Linked DNA regions of Homo sapiens: region 1 is linked to region 2. The links come from fine-mapping of genetic effects on gene expression. A gene starts in region 2. The other region holds a variant in brackets. All regions are shown on one strand. Distances are from middle to middle. Region 1 overlaps COL15A1 (collagen type XV alpha 1 chain). Region 2 holds the start of TGFBR1 (transforming growth factor beta receptor 1).

Region 1 (5,374 bases), 61 kb before region 2:
GAGGGGCCCAGGTATCTGAGTGAGATTGGGCGCTGGAATTTGCTAAACGTTTCAGATTGGCTGAAAATAGCTATTAACTTTTCTCTTCTTTGAGATACAATTCACATGCCATAAAATTCACCCCTTTAAATTGTACAATTCAGTGATTTTTGGTGGGCTCATAAGGTTGTACAACCTCATGAACCACTCTGTAATTCTAGAACATTTTCATCATACCAGAAAGAAACCCCATACTTATTAGCGGTCACTCTCCAGCTGTTAACTTTTTTAATCTCCAGGTTCTCTATGAGACGAGAAGGTACGAAGTGGGTAGTGAAATTGATTTTTACCATAATTTGGAAAGAGAACTCAACTCAACACTCCTTTGTTCTCACACACACTGTGCTTTGTCTAACCACCTGCTGGGCATCCCCCTTAGAACATGCACTGCCTGAGGACAGGCATCCTGCCAGCTTCTTTTCCATAGCTCCAATACTAATATGGGGCCTGGTATACAAATGGTACTGAATACACTTGTTGGACGAAAGCATGTATAATTAATGAGTAGAACAAATGTTAATATTTATAAATTATAAATTGAGCATTCTGCAGTTGAACAACAGTCTTGGTCCAAAGTCTCTGGAATAAATACTTAGCACACAGAACACTTCCTGAGAACTCCCAGGGTACCAAACCTATTGTTGTGCTTGTATTCTTTTGTGTTTGCCTCTTAGAATTAACTTTCCAGTTGGTTTTTATAGATAAGGGGGAGAGTGACGTCCATAAACAGATTAATATATTCACTCGTCCATGTATATACTCATCCATCTTTCGTCCACTGACCCGTGTGGTGTGCCAGGCAGTTTCCTGTGCTAGGCGTAGGGATATAGAAATAAGATGAGGAAGAGATATGCAAAGAGCTAACAGAGCACATGCTTACAGCTGGAATGGAGCTCTGTGCAAAGCCAGTGGGAGCACTGTGCAACCCCCTGAGCCTGCCATGGGGAGTCAAGGAGGGTGGGTGTGCTCTGTGGGATGGGGGAACTCCTCTCGTTCTTCTCTCCCCCCATCATTCTATAATATAATGGTCTCCAAGGAGGAGAGGGCCTCCAATATCTAGTGGGCCACTGCTCCAGGGCATGGAGGGCTCGGTATGCTGGGTGAAGGTTTGGCATCACGTGGGGATGTGTCTTGGGATGCTTTTCCTGCCACAGGCCTGTGGAGATGGACCAGGGCTGGCCAGCTCAGGCTTGGGAGGAGGCCCAGGGAAGCAAGAGCACCTCTTGCTTTAAACACTCTGTTTAAACACTCTGTTTCCTATGTGGTAAGGTCAGATGGATCTAGAGGGACGGACATGACATCCCCGCCCTAACCTCCTGCCACCTTGAATGACTGGTCCAGGCAGCCGGGCAGTTCTGCTCTGGCCATTGCAGTGAACGTGCTTTCTCTCACTCTGCCTCTAATGCTTTTGTGCTTGCTTCTTCTCCCTGCTGGCGTGCTCAGGACTACCTTTCCTCATCAGTGGAGTGGTAAGATCTAAATACCAGGTGTGGGCTTAGGGGGATGGAAGAAAGAGGCTGCTCTGCTTGCTTTGATGCTACTGTCCTAGCTACTCCCAGCCCCATTGAAAAGAGACTTCTGTGTGGCTCAGCCCTGCTCCCCAGGGGCCAGCATTGAAGTTTAGGGCCAAAGCCTCAGAGTCAGATAGAAGGTTTCTGCACCCAGTCTTGTTCTCTTGACAATCATCTTCTCAGCAGCCTCTAGCATAGTAGATGTCTCTGCTGAGGACAGGATTGGGGTCAGGATCCTGTGTTCTTGCCACCAGTCTACCCATCACTCATTCCTAATGTCTGGGATAGCTTTGCCTAACTAAGTAAGTGTTTGCACAGGAGCTTAGAGTTTGGAGGCAACGTTGCATATGGAGACATAAGGCCTCCATGTTGACAGAGGCCTCTAGTTTTTATACCGTCATCTCTTTCCTAATTTCAGGTGTTTTAACAAGAATAAGTATTCTTGGTGGGAACAGATCTCAGGTTGAGTTGCTAGGAAAGCAAGCTGTCAAATACATTGGGAGCCAGAGCTTCCTTGAGGGCACCATGTGGCAGGAGATAGACAGGACCACACTGGGGCTGGATCCTGGAGGGTTGAGAGTGAGGATGCAAATCTGTTATCAGTGGGAGCCTGAAGGGGCATGGAAGACAGGACTGTCCTGTGCCTTAGGACGGTAACTCTGATGGTGCATAGAGGGAATGGCTGAGAGAACATTCATTCATTTAGGAGGCTGTTGCAATACTCTAGTACGAGGTAATTTTGGAGCAGTGGGGTTTCAAGTAGGATGAAGGCAAGAGAAATAAATCATGGCTGCAGGACTCAGAGGTCTCTGTACAAGGTGGCAAGGAGGAGTCTCTGTACAAAACTCTCTGGACAAGGTGGCAAGGAGGAGTCCTGACTTCATTGAGATGTTCTCTGAATTGCAGGGCGAGAAGGGAGAGCCGGGTGCCATCCTGACAGAGGACATTCCTCTGGAAAGGCTGATGGGGAAAAAGGTAATTATGTCACCAGACCCTGCAGGCACATATCTGCCCCAGCTTTGCATCTTTGTTTCTGTCCCAAACAGTGACAAGTATATATCTTCCTGTTTTAGGGTGAACCTGGAATGCATGGAGCCCCAGGACCAATGGTAAGTCAGAGCGTCTCTCAGCTGGATCTGGGCTGGGGTTTGAAGCATTTTTCATACTTTGATTTGGTTAGATTTAGTTGTCCCGGTTATGAAAATTCAAAGATGTGGCAAAGATGTGCAAAATGTGCATATACTAGGGTAAGGCTGACTACAATTAAATAAACTTTTCAGTGATTTAACACAATAGCAGCTTATTTCTCGCTCTTGCAAATTCCACTGTGGTTGTTCTCAGCTTGGCATCTCTCCTCCAAGAAGTGACTCAGGGATCCAGGATGCTTCCATTCTGTGATTCTGCCATCTTGTGGATTCAAGGTCGCACAGGAGCTAGCAGGCTGAAGTTGGGGAGGGGGAAGAGATTGTGAAAGATAATAAACATCACTTCTGGCACATTCTGTAAGCCAAAACCCAGA[C/T]GCTTGTGGCCTCAAAATGTAGTTTAGCTGTGTGTCCAGGAAGGAGAGGTGCACTTGCAGTTATACCACAGAACTTGCCAGCTAAAGATGACCAATTTCCCAGGAAACCCTCAAAGGAACCCCACAAAACCTCTCTGGGATTTTTGATTCTGGTTGTGAATATGCCACTCATTTGCTGTGAGACCTTGTGCAAGCCCTCTTCTCTCTCTGGGCTCCTGTTTTCCCATCTGCACATTGAAGAGACTGAATTAGTACTAAATGATATTAGGGCCCTTCTGGCCTTACGGCTCTGGGAATCCATAACCCATCTGGGCTTCTGAGCAGCTCTTGCCATTTCTCTCAAGGGCGAACCCTAAACTTACTTCCCTGTGTAGAACATTCTCTATGGGTCAGACTGTACTGATGCTTCACATAGGTCATCTCATTTCATCTTCACAACCCCAAGAAGTGACTCTCAGAATCCCCATTTTATAGATGAGGAAACTAAGGCCCAAGGAGGTTAAGTAACCTGCCCATGTGACACAGCTTGTAAGTGGCAGAGTGGGGATTTGAGGCCAGCCAGTCAGGCTTTAGGTCCAGTCTCTTCTCAGATGAACCTCACTGCCTCTAATGAACATTTGAAACATTGAACATTTGAAACATTTTGGGCTAGAGAATTGTATACAGGTTTGTTTGGTTGAAGTTGGATCTCAGGTGTGGGGAGAAAGGACCTCACATTTCTGTAACAGACTTGTATCCTTGAAGAATGGCCTGTAACTTTCGAGGTGAATCCTTCAAAAGACCTTCTGAGGCCTTTGGTCCCTGAAGTTAAGAAGAGTGGACACCCAAAGTCAGGTAGCTAAGACAGACTGAGAGATTCTTGTATTAACTACTGGTTAACCACCTACTAACCTCCAATACTGTGGAAAATACAAATAGTTAGTGGTGGGGGTCAGCAGGCTGCTGCAGATGCCATGGCGGTGGTTCCTACTGAAGCCCAGCTTGGACACAGCTTGCCAAACACAGGCAGTAAGTGGCACCTTCTTCTAATTTGCATGAAGGTGCTGTGTGGGCTAGCTGTGGCCCTAGTGACCAGTGTAGCTTATAACGCCTTCTCAAATTCACTGGTGTCCTGTTACACAAAGTGTAGACCATGCACCAGCATCACTGACATCACTTGGGAGCTTCTTAGAACTGTAGAACCTCAGGCCCCACCCAAGACATACTGGATCTGCATTTTTAACAAGATCCAGGTGATTCTTAACACACATTGATGTTTGGGAAGTGTATTAGTCCATTCTCACGCTGCTATGAAGAAATACCAAGACTAGATAATTTACAAAGAAAAGAGGTTTAATTGACTCCTAGTTCCGCATGGCTAGGAGGCCTTAGGAAACTTACAATTGTGGTGGGAGGCATCTCATCACAGGGCAGCAGGAGAGAGAATAAGTGCCAGCAGGGGAAATGCCAGACACTTACAAAACCATCAGAGCTAGGGAGAACTCATTCACTGTTATGAGAACAGCATGGGGAAATCTGCCTCCATGATTCGATTACCTCCCACCACGTCCCTCCCATGACATGCGGGGGTTGTGGAATTACAATTCAAGAAGAGATTTGGGTGGGCACACAAAGCCAAACCATATCAGGAAGTGTTGCACTAGAACATACCAACCAAGTGGCCTGTGCCCTGTCAACCCCATCTGTCTTTGCTTTTCTTTCCCTAAGAGTAATACAGACTGGGTACTTTACGTACTGACCCTGTTTCAACTCAGTTTTTGTTTGTCATTTTTCAGAGCATGGCTATGTATGTTTATGGTAGGATGAAAAGGGACTTGGAGTGCCCCAGGCTTAAATCAGTCATTCTTCTGGGAGACACAGCAGACCCAGCTACAGGGTTGGAAAGGCGCAGACTGAGGGTAGAATTTGTTCTAGGAAGACATACATCATCAGTGGTGTTGTCTGTCAACCAAGTAGTTTACATCCCAGACATTAGAAGGCAGGAGGGTTCCTGAAGGTTGCAACAGAACAGTGGTTCTAGAAGCCTGTGGTCCTGGAAAGCCAGCACTGAAATAGGGTCCATGGTCTGGAACTCAGCTGGATGACTGGGGTGTCAGACCAAGACTCTGGTTCCTAGGGGCAGGTTAGAGCAAGGAAGGAACCAAATCCTAGAGTGGGTTATCAGGCCAGGCTGGCCTGAGGGGCGAGGCAGGGCTGCGTTATTCAGAATGGGGGATGCGATAAGCCCTGGGACATAAGACCTAGGGCAGAGGTCCATGTTCTGGGCTGGCCCAGCACCTGGCTACCAGGGAGCTGAGGCCCTGAG
Region 2 (5,374 bases):
CAAAAGGCAAATAAGGTCATGCATTTTTATTTACTGAATTTTAAGTAAAGCAGTGTCTTTTGAAGCGGGCCCAGTGCCACTTGCAGCAGAATCACCTGGGATGTCTATTACAAATGCAGATTCCTGAACCTTCTCCACATGAACTGAAGCAGACTTGCTAGGGCCGAGGGAGACCCAGGAATCTGTATTATTACAAGCTCTCCAGGTAATTGGAGAGACTTTACAATTTGGGAACCATGATTTTAAACTAATAATTTAGTGTTCCATTCTAGTGTAGTTTATTTATGGATCTGTGGCTCATGGAAATTTCCTCCTAGTATCAGGAAGATACAACTTAAAAATAGTCTGTTTTTCCTTCCTATTGTATCCACTGAATTCCACGGAAAATGTTAAGGAACTGGAGGTGTGATTAACACTGATTAATCTAGGCTCCGTACGTCAAAGGCACAGACTGACATGAACATACATGCTGATTAGAATCATACAGAGCTGGAAGGGGATGGGCAAAGAAATGGCATTAGCTAAATATTTACTATGTTCCAGACACTGTACCAGACACATTACGTCATTTAAGGGGCCCAAGACAAGTGATTCAATCCCTTTTATTTATAAACGGGGTAGGTACTATTATTATTTACATTTTAGAGATGAAGAAGCTAATGGCCAGAGAAAAACAGTCACTTTCTGAGATCATTCATTCATTCATACAATAAAAATCTCATTAGCTCTTATCTTATGAAAGACATTGCAAATAGAGCAGCAAAAAGGCAGTCTAGGGACCTCAGGTGGCACAAAGTCCACCAAATCTCCATTGAAGAAACTGGAACTGAGAGGGCAAATTGGGACTGGAGCCTGCCAGAAGCCATCTCTCTGGAATCCCTCAGCCTGAGCAAGAGGGGAGTTTGCTGCTGAGGCTGCTGGAGCTGCGGTGTAGAGCAAGTTGCAGGCCTCTGAGCCTGTTGGAGGTTCAGAAAGGTTAGCTGACTTGCTTAAGTAAGTGTCCTAGACAGGAGGGAGAAAGCGCGCGGGTCTCAGATCCCAGCTCCAATATCCACGCCTTTTCCCTTTTCATCTCCCGGAAGGAAGCCTTCACAGGTGGGGAAAATGCTCACCCAGTGACTCTAAAGTAGTGCACAAATTGGCATTAATCAGAACCATTCTGATTCCTGCTATCAAGGTTTATTTAATTCTAAGCTCAAATGACACAGAAAATAAAATTTCCTCCTTAAAAGGTTCTGCGGAAAAATATTCTCTGTTCTACGTAACAGCCTCCTTGGCTGTGTTTGTGTCTGAAGAAAGGACTAGTCTGACAGGAAGAATTACAAATCTGGAGCTCATTTTGGCGTCGCAGAGGGAAGGTGGGTGGAGCGTCTCGCAGTAAATTAGGAATTCAGAATGAAAACGTAGAGTTTATTTGGGTTTTTAGTGACACCTCAGGATTATTATACAGCAGTGTCAGACACAGCTCAAAGTAATGATGACTGCTCCCCCTCCGCCCCGCGGGAGCTGGGTGCTAAGAAGGGGGAACCCCTCCTTTGAGGGGTTGGGGTGGGGATCCTCCCTTTCCAACCTGGATCGGGAAGGGGTTTGAGAGGAGTGCGGCTTGGATCCCCATCCTGGATCTGTGCTGGAGGGAGGCGGGAGGCTATTTGGGGGTGTGTTTGGGCTCAGGATCTGGGTCTGACGCTGGGATCTGAGGACTTTCTGGGTTTGGAACTGGGTGGGGGAGCTGGGTTTGGGGTGACCGCTGGGAGCAGGAGGAAATAGGAGAGTGAGTCGCATGTGAAGGGCACTGAGGAGGGATCTTCGGGGGAATGCTGAAGTTGATGCGTGGACTTGGAGAGGGGAAGTTGAAGTGGATGCAGGGGCCTGGCGCTGCAGCGGATCTGGGTGGCATGTGCTGGGATTGCCAATGCGGAGCTGTGAATGGGGTCAGGGTGGGGCTGAGGCAGTACCAGATCTTCCGCGCCTAGAGGAGGTTAGAAGAAAAGAGCGTCGAACGGCCACAGCCTTTTTCCGAAAGAGACTCACACAGACACACCCATCGCTCTACCCGGCCCTCCGGGGCTAGCGGCTGAGCGGTGCTGGGGCTGGCAGACCCCGCCCCCACGCGGCCTCTCGGAGCCGGGAGCCGATCGGGCCGGGGCTGGGGTCTGGCGGCCCAGCCCCCGGGGAGCGTGGGGCGTGGCCAGAAACCGGCGCTCGCGGCTGCGGATTGGCTGCCTGGCGGGCCCGCAGGCGGGGCTCCCGGCTGGGTCCCGCTTGGCAGCTCGCGGCGGCGGGGAGGCGGGGCCGGCGGGAGCCCGGCAGCCAATGGACGCGCGTCCTCCGAGCAGTTACAAAGGGCCGGAGCGAGGCCGCCGCGGCGGCTAGGGAGGTGGGGCGAGGCGAGGTTTGCTGGGGTGAGGCAGCGGCGCGGCCGGGCCGGGCCGGGCCACAGGCGGTGGCGGCGGGACCATGGAGGCGGCGGTCGCTGCTCCGCGTCCCCGGCTGCTCCTCCTCGTGCTGGCGGCGGCGGCGGCGGCGGCGGCGGCGCTGCTCCCGGGGGCGACGGGTGAGCGGCGGCGCGGCGGGCGGGCGACTGCGGGGCGCGCGGGCCGGACCCGGCCTCTGGCTCGCTCCTGCTCTTTCTCAAACATGGCGCGGGGCCGGGGGCGCAGGTGGCGGCGCCGGGGCCCGGGCCGGGCTCTCGTGGCGCCGCGCGGCTCGGCGGCTGCCGGGCGAACCGCAAGCGGGGAGCGGAGGCGGGGCAGGGGCGTGTGTCCGGGCGCGGGCGGACGTGTCCGGCTGCCCGAGGCCGCCCCGCTCGGGACTCCCCGGGGAGGTGGAGTCGGGCGGAGTCGTCCGAGGTCCGGGGCTGCCCTCTGGGGTGTGAGTGGGCGAGGGCCAGGGGCGGAGAGTGCGAGGCCGGCGGGGACTGGCAGAGCCGTGGCTGCCCGCCGCCGCCCCCTGGGCACGGCGTGACCTTGTTCTGGGGACCCCCGCCCCAAGAGGGTCCGTGCCAGAGGCTGCCGAACCCGGGGCGGGGTTTGAGGTTGGGGTGGAAGGCGGCTCCCGGGCGGGGTGTGAGCTCCGAGCCTCTAGGGCTTCGTCCAGTGGGAGTCGGGGGCGACGTGTGGTGAGACCCCTGGGTCCGCAGGCCGCCCTGACTCCCGCCCGGCTCGACCCGAGCCGACCCTGCTGGAAGGGGCTGCTCCTCCAGCCAGGGGGGCTTTGTGTGAGAAGAAGGAAGCGCGGAGATGCGCGGAATGTTTCTTCTTTCGTGCGTCTGGGGAGTGTTGAAGTGAGTCCAGTAACCAGACGGCTACGGATTGTTTTCATAGTGGAAACTTGAACGTTTGCTCATTCTGCGGGTTTTGGAAATTTTGGGAACGACTGTGAATTGATTAAACGCTTTTTATTTCCTCGAAGGAACATCACTCACGTTGTTCCTTTTCTTGAGTGACAGTTAATAGTTTGATTCAGACATCTGTATAGCTGGTTTTCAAGGAAGACTGTTGGCTGGATTTTTCAAAATAGTAAATCAGGTTGGGGTAGGTGGTTGGTATCCACAAAGGGATGAGTGAAAAACTTCGTTAGCAGCTGAACTGAGACACTAGAAGCTAAAATACACAGCCTCAGTGTTAGCAACTAAAATGCAGTGAAAGTACATTTCTGTTTCTGAAACTGGACAAAAGATGTTGAAATTTTTTTAAAAAATCAAGACTGACGGTGACGATTATAATCAGTCCTAATAGCTACCGTCTATGTATTGTGCATTACTACGATGTAAATGCATACACTATTGTATAATTACATTATTTAATCACCACAAGTAAACTCCCAGGAGTAGTGGCATTTGCCCCACTTTACAGATGTGCAAAGTGGGGTACAGACACGTTAAGTACCCAATAACTTAAGTGCTAAAGCTAGGATTTTCACTCAGATCTCAGTTTCCCAAACCTGTATGTCATATATATATATAAATATGTATACATCATACTATCTGGCGTAGCCCATTTTTCTTCTTCAGTCGTCTGATGAGCAATTGGTCTTTATTATCCACTTTGGATTCTGTCCTCATGATTTGAGTATCAGATAGGCTTCATTCCGACTCTTAGCACATTGTTGAGTCCCTTCACGTGGGCCTGCATTAGAGGAAACAATGGATTTTTGACATTGGCCTAGGGAGGAAGGCAGGATAACTGTGTGGACATTTGGGAGAATCAGTATAGTTAGGCATGAAACACAGGTAACATTTCCACACCGCTATTAACTTGAATAACACAGTGCACTCTTTTCCACCAGAAGTAGCACAAGAAGCGTTCATGTATTCAAGTAACAGTAGTGGACTTAGTTGAAGACACAGAACATTGCTCAGTCCATGTCCTGGAGGAGTTTACAGTCTCCATGGTATGCACAAAATACAAAGCTGTCCAGGTGCTTATTACTCTAAGCCCAGACTGCCTCAGCTTGTCTGCCTCCCCTGTTGGTTATGATGATGCCTCAGTCCACCCTTAAAAAACATTCTGAAAAAGGTCAAATGCTTTTTATTTCCTCTGTAACTTGGCTTCCCTTTTAAAGACTTGCACCTTTTTATGTTCTGAGTATGTTTTAATGTTCTCTGCCCAACTTCTGTCTCCAACATAGGTTTCTCTAGGGAAATTGATTCCTTATCCCTAGTGCACAGTTTAGTACCACTATGTCTATATGTATATCCCATCTGAGAATGCTATTTGCTTCCTTTCTGCCATTTCATAACTTTTTTTCTTTGAAAACGTGCCCCCAATCCAACTCTTCTATGAATGCCTCTTGAATGTCTCCTCCTTTCTTGGTATGCAGCCTTCAGCTTAATCCTGCCTGTTATCCTCCAAATCTAGTTGCTTTCCCATGTTTTTCTCATCTAGGCTTTTCTATGGCTACTGCCAAACTAATCTTCCTCAGCCTTCCCCGTGAAGGTTTATAAGATTTCCCATTTGTATTCAGCACTTAGAACAACACTTAGCAGCTTATGATTGGGGCCATCTCTGAGTATCCTACCAGGGATCTCATTTCTCATTACTGCAGACCTTCGAGCAATTTCTCTTTCTCACTGACTCCTGACTGTTCAGCCTTTTCACTACACATTTAGTTTTGCCCCTTTTTTTGGGAGTGCGAGAAGTTCTCAGCCCTGACTTCCTGTGCTGGTTTAGTTCTTGAATTCTTTGTCTTCCAGAACTCTGCAACACTTAACAGTTTGTGTTGTCCATTTCTACTGCCTGTGCTGCTACTTAACTCTACTTGAATGCGTTATAGGTACCCAGAGGACAAGATTCATGCCATTTCTTTCTTTTGTGGCCTCAGAACTTAGCACTGTGTTTTATATTCTATTCCACATAAATGCTTGTTGATTTCT

The links. PIP is the estimated chance that this variant, and not a neighbour inherited with it, causes the effect. A credible set is the group of variants that fine-mapping cannot tell apart.
Region 1: its variant is the best candidate, but not a certain one, in a credible set for the expression of TGFBR1 in whole blood (TOPMed, PIP 0.82).

Annotation. Positions count from the first base shown.
Region 1 is chr9:99,042,112-99,047,485 of GRCh38, forward strand. COL15A1 (collagen type XV alpha 1 chain) reads left to right here. Exons shown (of 42, transcript NM_001855.5): 25 at 2,457-2,525; 26 at 2,624-2,659. Among named protein-coding and RNA genes, the nearest start is that of TGFBR1, 60 kb to the right of the region's middle. The variant C/T (reference allele first, on the strand shown) is at 3,070.
Region 2 is chr9:99,102,749-99,108,122 of GRCh38, forward strand. It overlaps TGFBR1 (transforming growth factor beta receptor 1), which reads left to right and starts at 2,365. Exons shown (of 9, transcript NM_004612.4): 1 at 2,365-2,554. The coding sequence starts at 2,458. RefSeq lists silencers at 1,893-2,492, 2,583-3,092.